Linked DNA regions of Homo sapiens. The protein of the gene in region 1 purifies or fractionates together with the protein of each later gene. This does not show direct contact. Each region holds a gene or a part of one and is shown in the gene's direction. Other genes may lie near its edges.

Evidence for each region.
Region 2: the proteins of MRC2 (region 1) and SPPL2B purify together in Homo sapiens (co-immunoprecipitation; one large-scale study listed by IntAct). This does not show direct contact.
Region 3: the proteins of MRC2 (region 1) and SLC9A6 fractionate together in Homo sapiens (co-fractionation; one large-scale study listed by BioGRID). This does not show direct contact.
Region 4: the proteins of MRC2 (region 1) and NRCAM fractionate together in Homo sapiens (co-fractionation; one large-scale study listed by BioGRID). This does not show direct contact.
Region 5: the proteins of MRC2 (region 1) and TSPAN15 purify together in Homo sapiens (co-immunoprecipitation; one large-scale study listed by IntAct). This does not show direct contact.

The regions. Positions count from the first base shown.
Region 1 is NC_000017.11:62,682,528-62,687,623, forward strand, and holds part of MRC2 (C-type mannose receptor 2 precursor), read left to right. Parts: intron 1-5,096. UniProt on the Homo sapiens protein: May play a role as endocytotic lectin receptor displaying calcium-dependent lectin activity. Internalizes glycosylated ligands from the extracellular space for release in an endosomal compartment via clathrin-mediated endocytosis.
Region 2 is NC_000019.10:2,338,684-2,343,779, forward strand, and holds part of SPPL2B (signal peptide peptidase-like 2B isoform 2 precursor), read left to right. Parts: exon of another isoform or gene 1-68; coding exon 69-158; intron 159-381; coding exon of another isoform or gene 382-385; coding exon 386-525; exon of another isoform or gene 526-607; intron 608-1,140; coding exon 1,141-1,283; intron 1,284-1,392; coding exon 1,393-1,489; intron 1,490-2,214; coding exon 2,215-2,331; intron 2,332-4,527; coding exon 4,528-4,609; intron 4,610-5,096. UniProt on the Homo sapiens protein: Intramembrane-cleaving aspartic protease (I-CLiP) that cleaves type II membrane signal peptides in the hydrophobic plane of the membrane. Functions in ITM2B and TNF processing.
Region 3 is NC_000023.11:135,991,214-135,996,309, forward strand, and holds part of SLC9A6 (sodium/hydrogen exchanger 6), read left to right. Parts: intron 1-3,572; coding exon 3,573-3,772; intron 3,773-5,096. UniProt on the Homo sapiens protein: Endosomal Na(+), K(+)/H(+) antiporter. Mediates the electroneutral exchange of endosomal luminal H(+) for a cytosolic Na(+) or K(+).
Region 4 is NC_000007.14:108,445,724-108,450,819, reverse strand, and holds part of NRCAM (neuronal cell adhesion molecule isoform A precursor), read left to right. Parts: intron 1-5,096. UniProt on the Homo sapiens protein: Cell adhesion protein that is required for normal responses to cell-cell contacts in brain and in the peripheral nervous system. Plays a role in neurite outgrowth in response to contactin binding.
Region 5 is NC_000010.11:69,454,465-69,457,964, forward strand, and holds part of TSPAN15 (tetraspanin-15), read left to right. Parts: intron 1-3,500. UniProt on the Homo sapiens protein: Part of TspanC8 subgroup, composed of 6 members that interact with the transmembrane metalloprotease ADAM10.

The DNA.
Region 1 (5,096 bases):
CCAGGGCCAGACTCCTTGGAAAATGACTCACTGTAGTAGCACCTTCCAATCCTCCGGGAAGCAAGGTTGTCCAAATAATTTGGTGAGTGTTCTAGATCAGTGATTGCCAAAGATTTTTTTTTTTTTTTTTTGAGAAGGAGTTTCACTCTTGTCACCCAGGCTGGAGTGCAGTGGCGCGATCTCGGCTCACTGCAACCTCTGCTTCCTGGGTTCAACCAATTCTCTTGCCTCAGCCTCCCGAGTAGCTGGGATTACAGGCACCTGCCACCACCCCTGGCTAATTTTTGTATTTTTAGTAGAGATGGGGTTTCACCATGTTGGCCAGGCTAGTCTCGAACCCCTGAACTCAGGTGATCACCTGCCTTGGCCTCCCAAAGTGCTGGGATTACAGATGTGAGCCACCGCGCCCGGCCTGATTGCCGGCCTGATTATCAAAGATTTTGATAATGAACTCCTATTAGTAAAACAAAATATTGAGCTTACATGACCAAACTATGTGTGTGTACATTTAACTTATATATGTATATGTGTGTGTAAATAAAACCTACTTCCATACTAATATGACTAATATTATATATAGTAAAATATGTATAAGAACAAAAGAGTATAAAACATTAGCTAAAGATTTTTAAATACTTTTAAGTTTAAAACATTTTTTTGGCTGCGCGTGGTGGGTCATGCCTGTAATCCCAGCCCTTTGGGAGGCTGAGGCGGGTGAATCACCTGAGATTAGGAGTTCGAGACCAGCCTGACCAACATGGAGAAACCCCATCTCTACTAAAAATACAAAATTAGCTGAGTGTGGTGGCACATGCCTGTAATCCCAGCTACTCGGGAGGATGAGGCAGGAGAATTGCTTGAATCCTGGAGGCGGAAGTTGCGGTGAGTCAAGATCGTGCCATTGCACTCCAGCCTGGGCAACAAAAGCGAAACTCCGTCTCAAAAAAATAAACAAAGAAAAAAAAAACAACAAAAAAAACACCTTTTTTTTTTTTTTTTTTTTTTACTAGTGGTATGAAAACATTTTTTTGTGCTCACTCAAAAGTGATTAATTGGCTGGGAGAGGTGGCTCACACCTGTAATCCCAGCACTTTGGGAGGCTGAGGCAGGAGGATGACTTGAGCCCAGGAGTTCGAGACCAGTCTGGACAACATGGAGAGACCATGTCTCTACAAAAAATAGGAAAATTAACCAGGTGTGATGGTGCACACTTGTAGTTCCAGCTACCCAGGAGGTGGGAAGTGGGAGGATCTCCTGAACCCAGGAGGTAGAGGCTTCAATGAGCCATGGTCATGCCACTGTATACCACCCTGGGTAATGGAGTGAGACCCTTTCTCCAAAAAAAAAAAAGATCAATTATAATAATTATTGTTTAATATGCTCACTTTGGCAGCACATGTACAAAAAGTGAAACAATACAGAGAAGATTAGCATGGCCCTGCACAAGGATGCTATGCAAATTCCTGAAGGGTCCATATTTTGCGTAGTTCATGAAAGTTGAAGGTTGTTCAACAAAAAAATTGTCTAAATAATTTTAATAAGAGCAATGTGATTACATGTACTTCACGTTTTTAAAAAATTTTAGTCTGACACTTTATGACTCATGACTCACAGGTCTAACGTGTTGAAAATCAAAGTTATTTCAAAACATGCATTTCATGGTGGCTATAGATTAAATATGCCTCACAAAGACAAATAGATTGAAGTGAAAAAAGTTCATCCATCATTTCTAAATAATTCTCCCCATTTTTAGTCCTTCTACCAATTAAACAAACATTTTTGTTTAAAAATTGGCTAGTAGGCTGGGACGCTGAGCACTGGGAGGATCACTTGAAGCCAGGAGTTCGAGACCAGCCTGGGCAATGTAGCAAGACCCTATCTAGAAAATTCTTTTTCCAAGTGTTTTGAGTGTGCAGGTAGGAAAGTTTGGGGCACTGACATTAATCACTATGGATGCATTTCTCAACACGTTTTTACAACACCCCCTCCATAGTGTGAGTTTCTTCCCCACAGTCGTTATTTTTCCATGCACAGGCTGATTTATTAGACCTGATTAGTCCTTCATTGTTTTTACCTGGCGATTGACAACGAGTTCATACCAGGAAGAGAAGGTTGTCATTTTCCTTGTTATGTGCCAGGGTAATTGGCATTAATCTCAAGCCATGGCTTCTTTGCAGGACATTTTAAGAACACTTAGCCCTGTTGTGAAGATTAGATTAGTTAACACTGAATAATATAATCCACAAATCCTTGTCATACACAGGAAGGCAGCCAGCCTCTTAGTGTCATGGATCTCCTGCCCTCCTCAGAATATTCAAAAGAACATTACACGGCCAGGCGCTGTGGCTCATGCCTGTAATCCCAGCACTTTGGGAGGCCGAGGCGGGTGGATCACCTGAGATCAGGAGTTTGAGACCAACCAGGGCAACATCGCAAAACCCTGTCTCTACTAAAAATACAAAAAATTATCTGGGCATGGTGGTGGACGCCTGTAATCTCACCTACTCGGGAGGCTGAGGCAGCAGAATCGCTTGAACCTGGGAGGCAGAGGTTGCAGTGAGCTGAGATCGAGCCACTGCACTCCAGCCTGGGCGAGAGATTGAGACTCTCTCTCAAAACAAAACAAAACAAAAACCACACAAAAAAAAAATTACACCTCTTCTACCTTAAAAAATTAAGGCATGTATATTATTAAAACTTTGGAAAATACAGAAGAGAAACCAAAACTCACCCAACACTCTCTAGAGATCACAGCTATCAATATTTGTTATTCTCCTTCCTGCCTTTTTCCATGGAATTGAGCTCATACTAAATAATATAATTTCCTACCCAACTCTTCTTTCTCTGTATCATATTTTGAGCATCTCTCATGTTATAAAGTTTTTCCAAAAACTTGTTCTTTTTCCATCCACTTTTTAAACAGAATGTATTTTATATATGTAATAGGTCCCATTCTTAATCATCATTGTCAAGATACCAGTTACTCTCCTGCCCTGTGGAAAGTTCTGTTTGTTTTTGTTTTTGAGACAGGGTCTTGCTCTGTCTCAAAAACTGCTGGAGTATGGTGGTACCATCATGGCTTACTTACTGCAGCCTCGACCTCCTAGGCTTAAGTGATCCTCCTGCCTCAGCCTCCTGAGTAGCTGGCACTACAGGCTTATGCCACCATGCCCAGCTAATTTTTCTATTTTTTTTGTAGAAATGGGGTTTTGCCATGTTGTCCAGGCTGGTTTTGAACTTCTGGGCTCAAGCGATCCTCCTGCCTTGGCCTTCCAAAGGGCAGGGATTACAGGTGTGCGCCACTGTGCCTGGCCTGTGGAAAGCTCTGGAAGTATGCTAGGGTGTTCACTCCTTCACTGCCTGCCCTCACACATCTTGCTTTACTAGTTCTGTGCCCTTCTTTGTGTCCCTATAGCATTTGGATGTAGGTAAAGCATTTATGGCAGCTGTCCCCAACCTTTTTGGCACCAGGGACTGGTTTCTTGGAAGACAATTTTTCCATGTACTAGGGGAGGGGAGGGATGGTTTTGGGATGAAACTGTTCCACCTCAGATCATCAGGCATTAGATTCTCATAAGGAGCACGCAACCTAGATCCCTTGCATGTGCAATTCACGGTAGGGTTCGCACTCCTATGAGAATCTTGGCTGGGCGCGGTGGCTCAGCCTATAATCCCAGCACTTTGGGAGGCCTAGGTGGGCAGATTACCTGAGGTCAGGAGTTTGAAACCAGCCTGGCCAACATGGTGAAACCCTGTCTCTACTAAAAATACAAAAATTAGCCAGGTGTGGTGGTGGGCGCCTGTAATCCCAGCTACTCGGGAGGCTGAGGCAGGAGAATAGCTTGAACCTGGGAGGCGGAGGTTGCAGTGAGCTGAGATTGCGCCATTGCACTCCAGCCTGGGCAACAAAGCAAGACTCCATCTCAACAACAACAACAACAACAACAACAACAACAACAAAGAATCTAATGCCCTGCTGATCCAACAGGAGGTGGAGCTCAGGCTGTAATGCCCCTTCGCCCCGCTGCTCACCTCCTAAGAGGCCGGGGACCCCTGGTTTGTGGGACAGCCTCTTCCACTAGCTTTAAGCTCCTGGAGGGCAGGGCCACTAGCACCTGCCATACCCCTTAATACACTTGCACATGGCAGGGATGCCCTCAGTGTCGGCTGGACTGAGCTGAATACCCTCCCCCTTTAGCTGTCACTTCTTGCTGGTACTGGTGTGACCTTGCTGCTTCCAAGTTTATGATGAATTCTACTCATGATTTAAGTTGGGCCTCAGCATGGCTCTGAAACTACTTCTGTGAAACCAAATCCTTGAACTTTGTGACAGACCTCCAAAAATCTGCATTATTTCTGGGCTTACAATTTTTTACCCCAAATCTGCCATCTGCATCAGTAAGGATGGTGCTGGAGCTAATTATTAATAGTCACAGCTCTCACTGGTTAAGTGCCTACTGTGTCATGTACTGTTATCTTTAATCCTTAAAATGATCCCCAAAGACAGGCTTTGTATTACCACTTTACAGAAGAGTAAATTGAGGCCATAAGGTTGTCAGAGCTGGAATCTGACATCTCCCCCTTACCTGAATCCCACCCCTGTCTTTATGACTCCAAAGCTTCCCTACACCCTTTCTTTTTTTTTCTTTTGAGACAGAGTTTCGCTCTTGTTGCCCAGGCTGGAGTGTAATGGCGTGATCTCAGCTCACTGCAACCTCCGCCTCCTGGGTTCAAGCGATTCTCCTGCCTCAGCCTCCCAAGTAGCTGGGATTACAGGCATGTGCCACCACGCCTGGCTAATTTTATATTTTTAGTAGAGATGGGGTTTCTCCATGTTGGTCAGGCTGGTCTCGAACTCCAGACCTCAGGTGATCCACCCGCCTTGGCCTCCCAAAGTGCTGGGATTACAGGTGTGAGCCACCGTGCCTGGCCAACACCCTTTATTTTCCATCACACTGCCTCTGAGCAGAAAATCATTAGATATTCATTTTCCTAAGAAAGAGTCTTCACTTGATGAGAGATTTCCTACCCAGGGCTTTTGTTTGTTTGTTTGTTTGGAAACCTTATAGAGCTAATGAAAGTGGGAAAAGAGAAAT
Region 2 (5,096 bases), on another chromosome or scaffold:
GGGCACAGAGCTGGGGGCCCACCCACTGCTGCGGGTGATGCCTGCCGCTCCCTCCTCTGGGCCCCCAGGTCCCCCCGGGGGGTAATAAGACGCAGTATGATGAGATTGGCATTCCCGTGGCCCTGCTCAGCTACAAAGACATGCTGGACATCTTCACGGTAGGTCTGCGCCGGCTCAGACCCACGCTCCCGAGGAGATGGGGCAGGGGGCTTCGGGCTGGCTGCCGGGGGGGTTTGTGCCTCAGTTGGTGGGATCAGGGTGGTGGGTGAGGCGTGGCCCCTGCAGGCCAGGGTCTCCAGCCCCAGCCCCACAGCCCACAGCTGCACGTCGACCCATGGCTGGCGGGTGGCTCTGACGCCTGCCTCCGGTGTGTTCCTTGAGGCAGCGTTTCGGCCGCACGGTGAGGGCGGCGCTGTATGCGCCTAAGGAGCCGGTGCTGGACTACAACATGGTCATCATCTTCATCATGGCTGTGGGCACCGTCGCCATCGGCGGCTACTGGGCCGGGAGTCGGGACGTGAAGAAGTGAGTTTCGCATCGTGCGTGTGCTGTGACGGGGTCGGGCGGCTCTGACACGGGCCGGGACGGCCAGTCTTCCAGAACAGCAGTGAGTGCTTTGGCCTCGGCAGGCACGGCTCGCCCCGTGGAGCCCTTCGTTTCTTCCTCAGGAGGTCCTGGGACAGAATCAGTCTCTTTTCCTGCCAGGGTGGGCTCCGGGCACCTGGTGGGTGTGTAGGGCTGGGCAGGTGTGGATGTGGCAGGTACGGGCGTGGCAGGTGCAGGGCTGGGCAGGTGGCTGGGGCCAGCTACCCTCTTCCTGCTGAGCCGCCTGGGTCTGGGGAGGCCCCATGTCCAGGGCTCTTTATGCAGATCCAAGCTGCGGTTGCTGCCCACACGCCAGCCTCTGGCCCGGCCTAGTGGCCACCCCAGCTCAACCCAGGGACGCGGGCCCTGCCACCCTCTGCTGTGTGGTCTCCTCTGCCCTGGGGACGTTCGGGGCGGTTCCTTGCACTTCAGTCCCCCCCGGGTCCCCTCCTGCTCCCGGGTTTTCTGCCCCGTTCCCCCGGGTGGCTGTGGGCTCCCGAGCCCCGTGTCGGCCAGCCGGCCCCAGGGCCCCACGACCCCATGGTGTCTCCCAAGAAGGTACATGAAGCACAAGCGCGACGATGGGCCCGAGAAGCAGGAGGACGAGGCGGTGGACGTGACGCCGGTGATGACCTGCGTGTTTGTGGTGATGTGCTGCTCCATGCTGGTGCTGCTCTACTATTTCTACGATCTCCTCGGTGCGCGGCCCCGGGCGGGTGGGCCGCGGCGTGGAGATGCAGCCCGCCCCGTGCGGAGGGAGGGTGGCGTGCGGGCCTGGCCCCCGGCCTCACGGCCCTGCCCCTGCAGTGTACGTGGTCATCGGGATCTTCTGCCTGGCCTCCGCCACCGGCCTCTACAGCTGCCTGGCGCCCTGTGTGCGGCGGCTGCCCTTCGGCAAGTGCAGGTGAGTCTGCCCTGCTGGCCCCGACGTGCCTGACTCTGTGCGGTGATGGCCACGGCCCCTTTGCCGCCCCATAGCCCCCCATGGTGCAATATTGCTCAGAGTCTACAGCAGGCGCTCCCTCAGTGCTGGCCTGGGGCTCCTAGGCCCAGGAGCAGGGCGGAGTCTGGGCGAGCTATCAATGGAGCCCACCAGCAGCCAGGCGCCAGGGGTGGCGGGGGGAGGGTGCCCTTGTCCCCAGGAACCCTGCCCCAGGTCGCAGGCCGAACCCTGGGTTCCCCAGGGTTCTCCGGGGAACCCAGAAGGTTCCCCACAGCCCAGAGCTTGGCCTGGCTCTTAGGGGTAAAGGGAGCTGCTGGGGGGTCTCCAACAAAGTCAGACCTGGGTCTAGGAAGCGGGGCTAGCCCAGGGGGAGACCTTTTTGTGTTGCCGTCCCTGGGTGAGGAGGTGGGAGGTCTGGAGCAGGCAGGGCCTCGGGCGAAGGGGCGCAGCGCAGGCGAGGGGCTCTGTGGGTACAGCCCGTGGCCCCCAGCGCCTGCCCGGGTCGGGCTCTGCCCTGCCCTTGGGGTGCCTACTGTTGTCATCGTGTGGGATGTGGAGTTTAATGAGGACAACAGAGTGGGGGCTGCCACTCTGCAGGGGGTGCCTGGGCCGGTCCCAAGGGTGGTGGGCAGTGGGATGAGGCCGGGAGCTGGTGGGCTTGGCTCTGACTGCCCCGTGCCCCCCAGGATCCCCAACAACAGCCTGCCCTACTTCCACAAGCGCCCGCAGGCCCGTATGCTGCTCCTGGCGCTCTTCTGCGTGGCCGTCAGCGTGGTGTGGGGCGTCTTCCGCAACGAGGACCAGTAAGTGCTGCTTCCCCCGGGCCCCGGCGGGCAGCGGAGTCCTCGGGTGCACCAGGGCTCCTGGGGCCCTGACTCCCTGCCCTCCCTGGAGGCCGCCCCAGCCTGGAGCTGCTTCAGCACCGCGTGATGAAGAGCCCTGGCCCCGGGCTGCTCTGACAGGGCTGCGAGGGCGTTTCACCTGGGGTTTGTCCGGGTGTCATGGGAACCCTGACTGGAATCCGGGAGGAGAGGCCGGAGCCCCTGTGGCCAGGAGCCACGTCCTCCAGCCTGGATGGGACTCCTTTGTGGGGCATCGCTGCCCAGGGCCACAGTCTGTCCCCCGCTGTCCCTTTCCTGGCACCCACGTGCACGCCGCAGGTTCGAGGCCCAGGGTGTGGGCACCAGGGCACCCGGTCCTCTTGGTCATGACTGCTGCGGCTTCTGAGCAGTGGTGGAGGTGGGGCAGGCACTGCTCCCCCCACGCTCACCTCCCACGTGGCCTGGACTTGTGGCTGCCTCCCGCTGGCCGGGCCTCCCCCATGAGGCCGAGTGCCTGGTGCCGTGTTGGGAGGACAGAGCTGGCCCGTCCCCGCCCGGTCCCCACCGCTGTCGCTGATACCATCTGGCACTTCCTCCCAGCCTTCCTGAGGCAGCCAAGTACGCTTGGCTTTGGTGTGTATTGGAGCCACGGCACGTTTAACTGGCAGAAGGAAGATGTGAAAATATTTTGAATCCTTTGTACACAAAGAGAAAATGAATCTTTTCAGTTATTTCCAAGCCAGGAAACTCGCTCCGTCACATGAAGTTAGAGCAGGCCTCAGTCAGCTGGGCGCAGGGGCTCACGCCTGGGATCCCAGCATTTGGTAGGCCAAGGCAGGACGATCACTTTGCCCAGGAGTTCAAGACCAGCCTGGGCAACAAGCGAGACGCCCTATTTAAGAAATAATATAAAATCAGAAAAAATAACTGGCCGCAGTTCTCTGGGTGCTTGAAGTACGTGGCGCCTGGAATTGGCTGTACCAGCGTCTCCCATGGAGGCCTCTGCTGTTAGCAGCCGCCCCGCCCTGGAGATGTTTTTATCCCATTTTCAAATGAAGCCTTTGATGTTTGAGACGCTGAGGAACGCTGGGGAACTCGTCCAGCAAGTGACAGGCAGAGCCTGCATTGGGGGCAGGGGCCAGCGGGGAGGGGACTCTGGGGCTTCGTGGGGCCAGGAGAGAGCCGAAGTTGCGGCTGGCTGCAGGGGCCGTGGCCTTGTGCAGGAGGCAGTTCTGTGCTTTGCCCCAGGGCACCAACCGCATGGCAGCCCCACCCACTGTGGACCCAGAGGTTCTTTGAGGAAACCTGGTGTGGCACAAGTTTTAATTTAATAAACAGTTTGGGCACGGGGGCTCATGCCTGTAATCCCAGCACTTTGGGAGGTGAGGCGGGCAGATCACTTGAGGTCAGGAGTTTGAGACCAGCCTGGCCAACATGACAAAACCCCATCTCTACTAAAAATACAAAAAAATTTGCCTGGCATTGTGGTGTGTGCCTGTAATCCCAGCTACTTGGGAGGCTGAGGCAGGAGAATTGCTTGAACCTGGGAGGTGGAGGTTGCAGCGAGTCAAGATCGTGCCACCAAACTCCAGCCTGGGTGACAGAGTGAGACTCCATCTCAAAAACAAAATAAAAACAGTTTGGAGGGGTCAGTGCCCAAGCCCTCCTGCGCACGCACCCTCTGCCTGGCCCCTGCCTACAGCCTGTGACCCCTGCCTACAGCGTGACGCCCACCATCCGGGGACAGTGACTGAGGGGACGCAGCCGGCCAGGCCCGTGTCCACCATCCTGGCCCCACCATCCGGGGACAGCGACTGAGGGGACGCAGCCGGCCAGGCCCGTGTCCACCGTCCTGGCCCCACCATCTGGGGACAGCGACCGAGGAGACGCAGCCGGCCAGGCCTGTGTCCACTGTCCTGGCTGCCGAGTGGTGGGCTCCTCTACCTGCTTCCGCAGGGTGGGCCCTGGGGTGGGGCCTGTGCCGCCAGCCCTGCTGGAGTTGTAACAGCAGGGGTCCTCCCACAGGTCTGGGGTCCTCAGAGTCATCCCCTGGGCAGGTGGAAGGGCAGTGGGGCTGCGTGCTGGCTGAGAGCAAGGGCCCTGTGTGGCTCGTGGGAGGCGGCGTCCTGGGTGGTCAGCCAGCCTCTGCCCCGGCGAGGATGCTGCTTTGTCTTGCAGGTGGGCCTGGGTCCTCCAGGATGCCCTGGGCATCGCCTTCTGCCTCTACATGCTGAAGACCATCCGTCTGCCCACCTTCAAGGTGAGTGCAGGGAGGGCACGGCTGCGGGGCAGCATGGGTAGTGGGGGCCCTTCATCCTAGCCTGGCCCGTGTGGGGCTGTGGTCCTTGCAGGTCTGTGCTCCTGCTCACTGCCCTGGGGATGGCCGCCTAGGCCTGTTGTGAAGGGTGGGGCTTGAAGATTGGGTCCCAAAGCCCCCGCTGAGGCGGCCTGGGTGGGTGGCTGCGGGGCGGTTCCCGGCAGGGGCAACTCATGTCTAGATGAGGTGGTGGTGAGAGTGGTTGAATAGGGCTGGAGGAACTGGCCTCAGGTGGTACCGGGAGTGCGGGGATGTTGTCAAGCCCCAGGCGGCTGCACTCCCGTGAGGGCCCCACAGCACCCCAAGCAAGCGGCATTTGAATGCCCAGGATGGCCCTCTGTATCCCCAGAGCCGGCCCTGCGTGGCACAGGCCTCCGCCCTCCCGTCCCCGCCTTCCTGTTACGTGGAGACTCTAAAAGCCTGACTTTTG
Region 3 (5,096 bases), on another chromosome or scaffold:
AAGGATCCCTCCTCTCTGCTCCCTCCCTGCTTCCTGGGCAACTACTGCCTTTTTTTTTTTTTGGACAGAGTTTTTGCTCCATTGTCCTGGCTGGAGTGCGGTGGCATGATCTCAACTCACTGCAACCTCCACCTCCTGGGTTCAAGCAACTTTCCTGCCTCAGCCTCCCAAGTAGCTGGGATTACAGGTGCCTGCCACCACGCCCGGCTAATTTTTGTATTTTTAGTAGAGATGAGGTTTCACTATGTTGGCCAGGCTGGTCTCGAACTCTTGACCTCAAGTGATCCACCCGCCTCGGCCTCCCAAAGTGCTAGGATTACACGTGAGCCACTGCGCCCGGCTGGCAACGACTGCTCTTATACCTCCTCATTTCTGCTTCATCACTTCTCACTTGGGTCTGGTTTCCACTCCTGCTACTCCACTGAAACTGCTCTTATCAAGGTCACCTATGGCCTCCTTGTTGCCAAACCCAATGGATACTTCTAATGCCTGCCTTACTCGACTTTACTATAGCATTTGATAGTTTTTATCACTTCCTTCTCCTCAAAAATGAATTTTTTCCCTTTCTTCCTGACTTTGCCACCACTGGTTCCTTTTTTTTTCTACTCCTGTGGGTTTTCCTTCTCAGACTCCTTCATCAGCTCCTTCTCCTCTAGCAGCCCCTTAATGTTGGCTGTTAATAGATCAAACCCCAGATCTATATCATAGTCTTCTTCCCATTTTACTTGCTCCCCTGGCGATCTCATCTACATCTGACTTCAACCATCTTATGACTGCACAGTGTATATCTCCAGTTGAGACCCCTCGCTTTAGCTCCAGATACCACATACTCAACTATGCGTGTGTCACAAGTACATCCAACTCAACGTGTCCAAAACTGAATGTAGCCTTTTCCCCTGTAAATCTGTTCATCTGTGTATGTTCCTTACCTCATTGAATGTCCTTGTTATCCCCCTCGGTGCTCAGGCCAACTTACCCACCTGGTTACCAAATCAATTAAGGTTCCTCTTAGTCTTTCATCTCCCTTCCTCAGTCACTAAATCTTCCTAAAATATAATACCTTCAAAAAATCCTTCTCGCCTCCTGTCAGTACTCTCTTAGGTTAGGACCTAAACTCTTATTGCCTGAATGCCTACAGTAGCCCTGTATCTAGCCTTTTAGACCCTCTTTAGTCTAGACCAGTCTTTCTAAAGTAGAAATCTGCTATCAAGCCTCTGCCTTCTATGACTTCATTTTACTTTTGGGATAAACTTCAAATTCCCTTCCCCAACAGATAAGATCTTTTATGATTCAACTCCTGCCAATCTTTCAAACCTCAACTCTTGTCACTTTATAAGCCAGCCATACTAAACTACTTGATTCACTGGATGGGCTGTGTTGTCTCCATCCTTGACTGATATGTACTACTATTCCCCTACGTGGAATATACCCATTTCTTCTAGTTTGTTACCTGCCCAGGTGACATCTCTGGAAAGACTTCCCTAATGTCTTACTCCCCCAGGGTTGCATAGTTGTCTCTTTTCTGTTTTTATAATACCTTGTATACATATATATATATAGCATTATGATTGTTTATTCAGTCTGTTTTCACCAACTGGACCGAGTTTTCCTTGACATTATGATTGTTTATTCAGTCTGTTTTCACCAACTGGACCGAGTTTTCCTTGAAGGAGGGACCTTGTTTTCATCTCTGAACCCTGGAGGCCTACCTAGCATAGTACACTCATTCACGTATTAAAAGAATGGCTGGCTAGTCAGAATGAAAGGCAATAGGAAGGTAAAATGCAGCTAGTAGTGGTATACTATGCATGGAGTTAAGGAAAGTTCCAGAAGTTTGGGTTTTATTTGTAGTTGAGGTATGTCCATACAATGAAATATCGTTTGGTCGTAAAAGTAAATGAGGTTCTGATGCATGCTACAACATAGATAAACCTTGAAAATATGCTAAGTGAAAGAAGTCAGACACAAAAGGCCATATATTGTAGGAGTTCATTTATATGAAATGTCTAGAAAAGACAGGTCCATAAAGAAAGAAAGTAGATGAGTGGTTGCCAGGGGCTGTGGATTCGGGCATGGGGGAATGGAGAGTGACTGCTAGTAGGTGTGGGGTTCTTTTTGGAGGGAAGGAAAATGTTCTAGAATTAGATAGTGGTGATTGATGTTCAACTTTGTGAATACACTAAAGACCACTGAATTGTACAGTTTTTAAAAGGATAAACTTTTGGTGTTTGAATTAGATATCAGTAAAGCCATTACTAAACAATTATAGTCGATCAATATAGTTTTATAGGGCTGGGCATGGTGGCTCAGGTCTGTAATCCCAGCAGTTTGGGAGGCCGAGGTGGATGGATTACAAGGTCAGGAGTTCGACCTTGGTCAGGAGCCTGGCCAACATGGTGAAACCCCATCTCTACTAAAAATACAAAAATTAGCCAGGTGTGTTGGTGTGAGCCTATAATCCCAGCTACTTGGGAGGCTGAGGCAGGATAATTGATTGGACCCGGGAGGCGGAGGTTGCAGTGAGCCGAGATCATGCCACTGCACTCCAGCCTGGGCAACAGAGCAAAATTTCGTCTCAGAAAAAAAAAAAATTTAGTTTTACAGTACCTAGAACATTGTGCATATTTGAATGTCAGTAGGATGATCCAGCAATCTGTTTGATGTCATAGTGCCAGATTCAGGACTTCTATTCCATGTTTTGATTTTGAAGCAGATTTTTAAAATTAAAATCTGATCTTTTAGAAGTAGAAGAACTCAATCAACCTACAAATATTATTGACTTTTCAATTTGTTAAATGTGCATTGTTTGGCCAGTCATGTGCTTTGGGAATAAACTTGCGAAGTGCATTGTTTAAGTCTTATAAATTGATGAATGGAGGTGAAAAACAAATTTCTTTTTTTTTTTTTTTGAGACAGGGTTTCACTTTGTTGCCCAGGCTGGAGTGAAGTGGCATGATCTCGGCTCACTGCAACCTCTGCCTCCTGGGTTAAAGCAATTCTCACACCTCAGCCTCCTGAGTAGCTGGGATTACAGGCGCCCGCCACCACGCCCGGCTGATTTTTTGTATCTTAGTAGAGTTGGGGTTTCACCAAGTTTCCCAGGCTGGTCTCGAACTTCTGAGCTCTCAGGCAATCCACCCATCTCGGCCTCCCAAAGTGCTAAGATTACAGGCATGAGCCACCGCGCCTGGCCAGAAAACACATTTCTAACACGATTGCACTGTCGAGTTGGGACACATTGGAGCATATTCTGTCTACAGATGATTTGAAGATATTTTCTCCTTTTGTTACCTTCCTCATTACTTATTTAAATATTGATCTAGAAATGCAGTGATCTGTGCTGTTGTCCTAGGGAATGTTTTTCTCTCCTGTTTCACTGGATTATATGAAGATTGGGCTGTTTGTTGTATGAATTTAGTAATATTTTAAAACATAACTGCATTTCATCTAAAAATCAGTTCTGAGCTACAGGGAACTACCGTAAGAGATTTTCTCTTATCCATAGTTATGCGTGGGGTACAAAAGAAGTGGTCTCTGTCGGCAAGAAGAGCTTATGTTGTTCTTTTTTCCAGGTCTTTTGGTGGGCCTTGTGCTTCGGTATGGCATTCATGTTCCGAGTGATGTAAATAATGTGACCCTGAGCTGTGAAGTGCAGTCAAGTCCAACTACCTTACTGGTAAATGTTAGTGGAAAATTTTATGAGTATATGCTGAAAGGAGAGATTAGTTCACATGAACTCAATAATGTTCAAGATAATGAAATGCTTAGAAAGGTAAGTTCTTAAAGGAAATCTTTGAATCTTTTTTGTGTCTAACTAGCAGCAAAATGATCCAGGAGAAAATAAGTAATGGATTTTTAATGATATTTAAAATAATGAGTCTTTTTCAATGGAGTAAAACCTCAATTAACAAATGTAATAATGTAAGGAAATGGATATGTCTGTACAACTCATTTTCTGATTGAGGTTAAGTAGTATAACTCTTTTTGTTTCTCTCTGGATTGTTTACAGCTTGTTGTGATAAATGGAGACTGGGATTGAGTTAAGCAGAATTTATAAGCGTTTCTTTCCATTTGCAGATGGTCCTTATAGTTTTCTTTTTCTTTTTCTTTCTTTATTTTATTTTTTCTGAGATGGAGTCTCACTCTGTCACCCAGGTAGAGTGCAGTGGCATGATCTTGGCTCACTGCAGCCTCTGTCTCCTGGGTTCAAGCAATTCTCCTGCCTCAGCCTCCCGTGTAGCTGGGATTACAGGCATCCACCACCACACCCGGCTGATTTTTGTATTTTTTAGTAGAGACGGGGTTCTACCATGTTGGCCAGGCTGGTCTCCAACTCCTGACCTCAAGTGAATCCCCCGCCTCGGCCTCCCAAAGTGCTGGGATTACAGGCATGAGCCACTGCGCCCAGCCGGTCCTTATAGTTTTATAGTACTTCAGCACATTGGCTTTATTTGATAATACCTAAAATATTCTATTAATATTTCTTTCAATTCTTTCTTGCCTTGCTTGTATTCTATACCGATCACAATTTAATCTTTCTTTGATTCACAATCTGACACAACTTCAGGGGCCCTAAGTGTGAGTCTGAGTTATTGTACCATATTGTGCATAAAGCTTTATGTTAGAGTTTGAGTTGCAATTGTACTGGCTCCCAGAAATCCCTGGAGCTGCTTTCTCCTGTCTCCCTCATAGGTTTATCATGACGTTTCTCATGATAAACGGCTCAATGCCACTTTGCTCATGTCTCTTTGTTTTCTCCTACCTTTGCTGTTTGCCTTCACTTCTGTCTGCTACATTGGCAGGACTTGACTTTTTTTTTTTTTTTTTTTTTTTTTTGACACAGGGTTTTACTCTGTCACCCAGGCTGGAGTGTAGTGGCACGATCTCAGCTCTCTGCAACCCCCGCCTCCCAGGCTCAGGTGACTCTCCAACCTCAGCCTCCTTAGTAGCTCAGACTACAGGCACGTGCCACCATACCCGGCTAATTTTTGTATTTTTAGTAGAGTTGGGGTTTCACCATGTTGTCTAGGCTTGTCTCAAACTCCTGGACTCAGGCGAACCACCCACCTCAGCCTCCCAGAGTGCTAGGAGTACAG
Region 4 (5,096 bases), on another chromosome or scaffold:
TATTAATTGATTACATACTTTGTGCAAAGCAAGAAATTGATGTTGTGGAGCATATGTGTTGTAGTCCAAGTCCAGGATAAGCCAGCATTGATGGCATACATTCATGGTATTTTTCTAAAATGTTGAATTAAAGTACCTATGTCTGTAATACACTTGTGCTAAATGATTTTGCTATGAGGATAAGTTAAATAAATATGCTTTTTTTACTGCCAAAAAATGGCATTATTATTTTAATCTAGAACAAGAGCAAATTTGCCTCATATCTGAAAATAGAAATATTCTTATGCTGAATGTTTAGGGATGTACTGGCATTGTAAATTATAGTTCCACATTGGGCATTTCTCCCTACCATTGAATCTTCCAAGATGACAGCATAAACCTTCACCACCCAATTATAATTGCTTAGCTGAGCTAATAAAAAAGATGTGGTGTCAACTTAATTGACCTATTTTACTGGCCTACAAGATTGGAATTTCAAATTAGAAAAAGGTAATTTTTAACAGTCTGATGGAGGGTTTCCATCAAGTGACTAAGAAGCTAGTGAAGATAAAAAAAAAAAAAAGCCAGTGGTAAAGGGAACAAATTATAACCACTAATGCTCCTGTACTCACATACTGTCCTAATGGCATATTCAGTTCGAACACAGGAATGATGAATCTTACTTGTATTATGTGCTCTCCGAATTTCTTCCATATTGCCCTGGACTAAAACATGGTTTAATTCACATGAGAATGAAAATGACAGGTACTGTCAGGCAAAAATGATCCTTTTGAAATTCTTCTCATTAAATAATGGTAGGAAGGGCTGGAAACTATATTTTGAATATATATATGTTGAATATATATATATGTTTAAATTTTATTATGTGCATAGTGTGTTGGTTCAAAACCCACTGTAACCAGAAAAAAAAAAAATCTATTTCTAGGGCAATCTGAGGGAATCCTGTAGGAGGTCTTCCACTGGGTAATATGCAATGAATTTGATTTATCTTTCTCAAGTGGGCTGAGAGCATTCAAAAAATTCAGTATGAGTATTCAGCATGTAGTGATCTTTTCTCCAAATTTCAACTTTAAAGCTAATTTCATGCCACTTTTTGATGTCCTTGGCATTTGAATGGCATGATTTATGGCATGCATTTTTGATGAACATTTACAGACTCATATTCAACACCACTAACAGATTCTCTCTCAAGGGAAAGGGGAAGTACTAATCTCCCATTAATTATGCCTTAAGGTAAGAGTGGCCTGTCCAAAGAGTTTTGTCCTGGAGTTTTTTGGTTCTTTGAGGAAGGATGGCTTGCGAGCGAGTCCGCTGCTGCCTTCCAAAACCTGGTGTGCCTTTTCAGTCCCTTACCTCAATAGAGAGCTGAAAGGACAAAAGTGAACAAAGGAGGCCTGTTTTGCCTGCCCCACTTGCTGGGCTGTTGTCTTGGCCCTTTTCAGTGAAGGGAGGGGGGAGCTGGGTCAAAGTTGAAGAACACTGAAAAGGAATTCAAGCTTCATGTTGAAATTTGAATTATAGCTTCAGTTTGAGTGCCGAGTAGATTAGTTCGAATTGAAATTTGTGAATCTGTGGAAGCTTAAGTGACAGATGGTGTTGGAACAACCTACATAGAGCTGGATGGCACACCCGAAATGTTGAGTGCCCAAGCGAGGCACTTGGTAAACATCTAGTTAACTGACAAAAGTTTTAAAACTGTAGGAAGTTCAGTTTGCTGCTGTACGCTGCATTAAAACATTGGACTGTGTGAATTAAGGGGAGGCCCCTGTGTCTGGCGCTCACTCAGATGCACTTGTTCCCCCTAATTGCATTGCAAATATTCTTCTGACTGTTCTGCGGCTTTCCCCTCTATTATCTAGTTGAATAAATACAGAAATGCCCAACCAGCTTCCCTTGTAAAATTGCATCGCAGTGTTGTGGTGTTGTCCACAGATTGTTTTGATGTGCAACAAGATACATCTGTCCTAAATATTGTCTAACCAGTGTTTTTTCTTCCCAGATAAGTATATTTATGAAGTGTGATTTTGGCTTTCTGCTCCCGGTGGGAGTCCATCACTCTTATATTTACTCTCGAAGTTTTTCATATGGCACATGGTTTTCCATTCATTTTGGTAGGCAGCATCTGATTGAAAACATTTCAGTAGGAAACGTTTTCTAGTGTGTGCATCACTAGAATAATAAAAGCAGCTACTAGGAGGTAGAGGGTACTAGAATGTATTATAATAAGTGAAATAAAAAGCAATTTTGGGTAATTTGAAATTCTTCCTGGTATTCTGTAAAACTGCGATTGGAAATGGAAAAATTGTAGTATTTGAAAACTGAAAAATTGAAAGTTGAAACATCACCAAATTTTGCTTTCGCATCTTTGACTGCTTAAATGACTCGACATAGTCTTTTCTTCTGATGTTAGTAGCATGATGGCTAAAAGCCATTTTTGTAAATGTATATTTAGTACATTCAAATGAATATTTCTACTTTTAGGGAAATAACATTGACATGGCAATATTTGAACAGTTAGTAACATGGAAATTCCAACATAATAAATACTCTAATGTGAACAACATCTAATTTACTTCAGAATGATTATATTAACTTACACGACATGTTGTGTTTTACATGAATCATGATATATACCTTGTGTGTTTCATGAATTTTAAGGTAAATTTCATTTTAATAGATGTGCTGGGGTTTAAAAAACTCCATGGTTATGTTTACGTTTCTAGTAACAGTTACTGTGATGTGAAATTATAATGGAAGGTAAATAGATGTCAAGGGTTCACTGCTGTCCTAAAACCATGAGGGGGTTCATTAAACAGCAGAGAGGGAGTGAGTTCATGATCAGACTCATTACCTCTAAAGGTAATAGCTTAAAATTTGAAAGAAAGAGAAAGGGAAAAGAATAAAAGTTTTTATGGCTATTGCCTGGCTAATGGAGAATAGTCTCCACTTCATAGCACTCAATACGAAATATTCTAGGGATATTTTACTGTAGTACTTTGGGTCATTGCAGTAACTTGACATCATAAAATAGAAATAACTCATAAGTCACCTTACAAAAATGAAATATGATAAGACATTTACATTTAAAAGAAATGTATTGAGAAGAATTTACTAAGAATTGAAAGCTAAAGTTATTTCAGTGTAACATGCTTAAATTCCTAGCCAAATCCACTCTATTTTCCAGCTGTTTTGTTCCTTTATGTACAGGTGGCCCTAGCTTGAGAAAGTTAGCATATGAAAATGTGAACTTGGTCGGGCGCAGTGGCTCACACCTGTAGTTCCAGCACTTTGGGAGGACAGAGTAGGCGGATCATGAGATCAGGAGTTCAAGAGCGCCCTGGCCAGCATGGTAAAACCCCCTCTCTACTAAAAATACAAAAACAAAAATTAGCCAGGCATGGTGGTGCGTGCCTGTAATCCCAGCTACTCGGGAGGCTGAGGCAGGAGAATCACTGGAACCCAGGAGGCAGAGGTTTCAGTGAGCCAAGATTGTGCCACTGCACTCCAGCCTGGGCAATAGAGCGAGACGCTGTCTAAAAAAAAAAAAAAAAAAAAAAAAAGAAAGAAGTGAACTTGGCAAACCCATATGGGGTGACTGTTCACATCAAAGAGGATTCTTCACTTTGCATAAGGATTATATGATGAGTGAGCTGCTGTAATGTATCAAAGTTCAATTCATGAAAAATTTTTCAGAAATATCTAAGTAGAGACTCTGTTGAAAGAGCAAATAGATACCAAGTGAAACCTAAGCAAATAAGGCTGAATAAAAATTAGTAAAGAGGTAGACAGGTGGGTCTGGGTGTGGTGGCTCATGCTAATCCCAGCACTTTGGGAGGCCTGGGCGGGCAGATCACTTGAGGTCGGGAATTTGAGACCAGCCTGGCCAACATGGTGAAACCCCATCTCTACTAAAAAAATGCAAAAATGAGCCAGGTGTGGTGGTGGGCGTCTGTAATCCCAGCTACTCAGGAGGCTGAGGCAGGAGAATCACCTCAACCCAGGAGGCGAAGGTTGCAGTGAGCTGTGATCATGCACTTGCACTACAGCCTGGGCAACACAGCGAGACTCCATCTCAAAAAAAAAAAAAGACATAGGTTGTAAATGCAGAGAGAACATACGATTGTATAAAAATATTTGATATTTGCTCTAAATAACATTGAGGGGCCGAGTCTGCATGATAAAGAAAAGCAGATAACTAGTCATCCAGGCATTGGGGGCCCTTGCTTATCTTAGTCAGCTTTCTCCATGTCTCCTAACTTCGGAAACCATCCTTGCTCTGTTCTGCGAGGAGCCTGAGCTGCTCTTCACATTATGCATGGTGGTATGTATCTGAGAGCCCCCAAATTTGATAAATGAGTGTGTGCAAGAATGAATGACTGAATACATGAATATTGCAAAATGTCAGAATGTCAGGTGGATCTTTGTTGGGGAAAATTGGGGGGTTTTGTTCTCAGCCCTGGTTTGAAGACATAGATAGATCTAGACCATGAGAAACCAAACATTTATAATTTCATGCCTGGACTCTGTAGATTGTAATTTGCTTGCTGGTTCTAAATTAGGCACTTGAGCAAGCAGGTGAAATCATTGAATCCAGAAGGGTACTATTTAAAAAATTTCTGCTGCGGAGGTCTAAATGACATCCTTGTGACCCCAAAGAGTTCCTCTATAATTTTCTACCTTTGCTAATGGCAGATGATTCCAGATTTGCACGTGGCTTTCCTTTCCCTTCACTGTCTGAAGCTGGTGCTTGTCATTTTCCTCCGGAGGTCTCTGGGTGGCTGCACACTGACTGAGTTAAGCACTTTCTGAGATTGCTTTCTACCCTCTGAATTTGAAGAAATCAGAAGTGAGGCACACAGAACTGAAATGAAAAATGAAGAGACTGGTTTGTGAAACAGATCAGAAGCTCTCATGCTGTAGCTTTAAAAATGGAACTTTCTCCCTTAAGATGTGAGTTGAACTACAGCATGGCCTTTCGTAACTAGTTAGTGGGTTATAGGGGTTGGATTCAGGGCAGTGGTGCCATATTAGAGACACCTAGAATAAAAAGTTATGTAACATCTTTGATTAATTAAAATTTGAGAAGAACTAGGCTA
Region 5 (3,500 bases), on another chromosome or scaffold:
CTGACATCGTGCCACGGCACTGTAGTTGGGTGACAGTGTAAGACTCGGTTTAAAAAAAAAAATTACTATTGACCAGGCATTGTGGCTCATGCCTGTAATCCTAGCACTTTGGAAGGCCAAGATGGGCAGATTGCTTGAACCTGGGAGTTCGAGACCAGCCTGGGCAACATGATGAAACTCTGTCTCTACTAAAAATACAAAAATTAGCTGGGCGTGGTGGCATGCACCTGTAGTCACAGCTACTTGGGAGGCTGAGGTAGGAGGATCACCTGAGCTCAGGAGACGGAGGTTGAAGTGAGTTGAGATTGTGCCACTGCACTCCAGCCTGCATGAGACTCTGTTGCAGAAAATAAAAAATAAAAAATAAATTACTACTGATAGAAATGCATGCATGGGCTTGTTACAAAATTTAGAAGTAGAAAAGGGTAAGGCCGGGTGAGGTGTAATCCCAGCACTTTGGGAGGCTGAGGCGGGCGGATCGTGAGGTTAAGAGATCAAGACCGTCCTGGCCAACATGGCGGAACCCCGTCTTTACTAAAAATACAAAAATTAGCTGGGTATGGTGGCGTGTGCCTGTAGTTTCAGCTACAGCGAGGGCTGAGGTGGAGAAACGCTAGAACCCGGGAAGCGGAGGTTGCAGTGAGCCTAGATAGCGCCACTGCATTCCAGCCTGGTGACAGTCTCAAAAAAAAAAAAAAAAAAAAGGAAAGGGTAGTGGTTAGTGACAAGCCTCCCCTCCTACCCCTCTCTCCTGGCCTGCCCAGTCCAGAGGAGGCCTTTGTTATCAGTTTCCTGTCACTCTTTTCTGAGCTATCGTAGTCAAAGGATGTCCTAGGACAAACATATGTATATTTAAAATAAGGTAGCACACTATACACAGAACTACGTATGTAGCCCCTCTTTCACTTAAATTTAAATCCACGTGAATTATGGAGATCTGCTAGGAGCTGCCTCATTCTGTGTGTTGGCTACATAGATTCCACTCTAGGCTATGCCACATTTATTTAATAGTCCCCAGCTGGGGAACTCTTAGGTTGTTCCCAGTCTTTCTTTCCCTCTCTTTCTTTCTCTTTCTTTCTTTCTTCTCTCTCTCTCTTTCTTTCTTTCTCTTTTCTTTCTTTCTTTCTCTTTCTTTCTTTCTTTCTCTCTCTCTCTCTCTCTCCCCCCCCCGTCTCTTTCTTTCTTCCTTTCTTTCTTTCACTGAGAACAGTGACACAGTGAGTATCTCTGAATGTGTCATTTTGCATGGGTGTATATGTCTGTGGAGTAATTCTAGGAGTGGGGTTGTTGAGTTAAGGGGTATATGAATATATGTTATACATGCAGACACGCACCTGCCATCAGTATATACAGCTTGATGAGTTTTCACAAAGTGAACACACCTGTACACTGAGCCCCCAGGTCAACCAGCAGAATGGACAGCAGAAGGCAGATACCCCTCAAACCCTCTTCTAGGCACTATCTCTTACCTTTGTGGGTGATCACCACTGGATTATCTAGCAGTATAGAATAGCTTTGCCTGTTTTTGTATGTGCATTTAACATTTTGATGTTATTAAATTGTCCTATATAGAGGTGACACCAATTGTAATATTATTTACTTAATATGTTTATTTAAATTTACTTACTTTTTTTTTTTTTTGAGACAGAGCCTCGCTCTTTCACCTAGACTGGAGTACAATGGTGTGATCTTGGCTCACTGCAGCCTCTGCCTTCCAGGCTCAAGCGATTCTCCTGCCTCAGCCTCCCGAGTAGCTAGGACTACAGGCGCCTACTACCACGATGGGCTAATTTTTGTATTTTTGGTAGAGACGGGGTTCTACCATGTTGACCAGACTGTCTCGACCTCCTGACCTTAAATGATCCACCAGCCTGGGCCTCCCAAAGTGCTGGGATTACAGGCGTGAGTCACTGTGTCCAGCCTAAACTTCCTTTTTAAACTTAAATTTCTTTTCCTTTTTTTCCCTTTTTTAAAGTATATATTTTTTATTTTCCAGGCACATAGGTTCAAGTTGCCCTGAATATGCACGCCTTTAAATTTATTTTTAAAAGGAGGCTTTATATCAGTATTATGAATGGGAAACCAAGACGCCCATCATAAATAGCAGGTAAAGGTTTAAAATAAGTACAGTACAGGGAAAACAAAACAATGATACTAAATCCTAGCTGGATGTCATGGGTGCTGAAGGCTGTGACCCTGACGCCTACCCTCTCTGTTCAAAAGGTAGGTTGGCAAGTGCTTGAGGGGCTGAAAGACAAACTAGCACCCAAACTGAGACCCGCTCCTTGATGCAATCGGAGGGGTCGAAAGGGCATTGAACGAGGAAAGCTCAGTCTGTAAGTCCCTATGATAGGTATACCCCTAAACCACTTATGGTTATCTGTCCCACACTCAGGGCCCTCTTGTTTTCGGCAGGGAACTTTGGGGCTGCAAAAGGGTGTGTTTGAGGCTCACTTGTCAGAGCTGGCATGTACCCCAGGTCCCTGCATCCTCAGGTAGGTGCTCCTTGGCCCTTCCAGTAAGTCATGGGGATGTCTGCGGGAGAAATGAGCTCACGCTGAGGCACTTAGAGCCTCCTTTTCCCACCACACAGGGTGAATCATTCTGACACATGCGCCCTCAGCCCATTGGGGACACACCTCTAATTTTAGCACTGCCCACGGGGTATCTTAGAGATCCGTTTACAGGACTGCTTTTCCTTGCTGGACTGTGGGCTCCCAGAGGTCAGGATTGTAGTTCATCCATATCCTCCTCTGAATGCTGCCCCTGGGGCCTGTGCACACAGTAGGTGCTCAGGGGAGGCATGTTGCATGATGGTGATTGAGTCCCACTTGTACCTACAAGGCGAGGATCCAGCTTGGGGCAGAGGCCTGGCTGGGGGTGTAACCCGCAGTGGTCAGGTCTGCTGAGGCCTTGACTTTGCAAAGTGGGCAGGGCTGATCATGGTGCTACGGACTCTCCACAGAGCACCAAGCCTGTTTCCTTGATAACAGGGTAGGACTTTCAAGTGGGTAAAGGTGTCATGGCTGGGGAGTGTTGACTAATCAGGAAGAAAAGGACTTGGTGGGAGTTGGGGGCAAGTAGGGAGGAGCTGAGGGTGGGTAGGTGGTGGAGGCAGCAAATGCCAGAGGCAATAGGAACTCTTTCTGGGCTTTCTCCAAGGATGAACCTGCTTATTAGAGCTTGGCCTGTGATTTCTTACATTTCTTATAGTTTAATGGTTAAGAGTGTGGGCTGTGTACCAGGTTGCCTGGGTTCAAATCCCAGCTCTGACACTTAAAGGTTAAGTGGCCTAGACATAACTTCCATGCACCTAACCTACCTGAAGAGTTGCTAAGCAGATTAGATGGATTAATACATCTGAAGAGCTTAGAGTGGTGCCTGGCACATGATGAACACTCCATCAACTAGTCATGGATTAGTCGTTCTTTTCCTGCCTTCCTCTCTAGCCTTGCTGCTCAAGAGCCATAGACTAAGAATGAGAAGGGCTGTTAAAGACA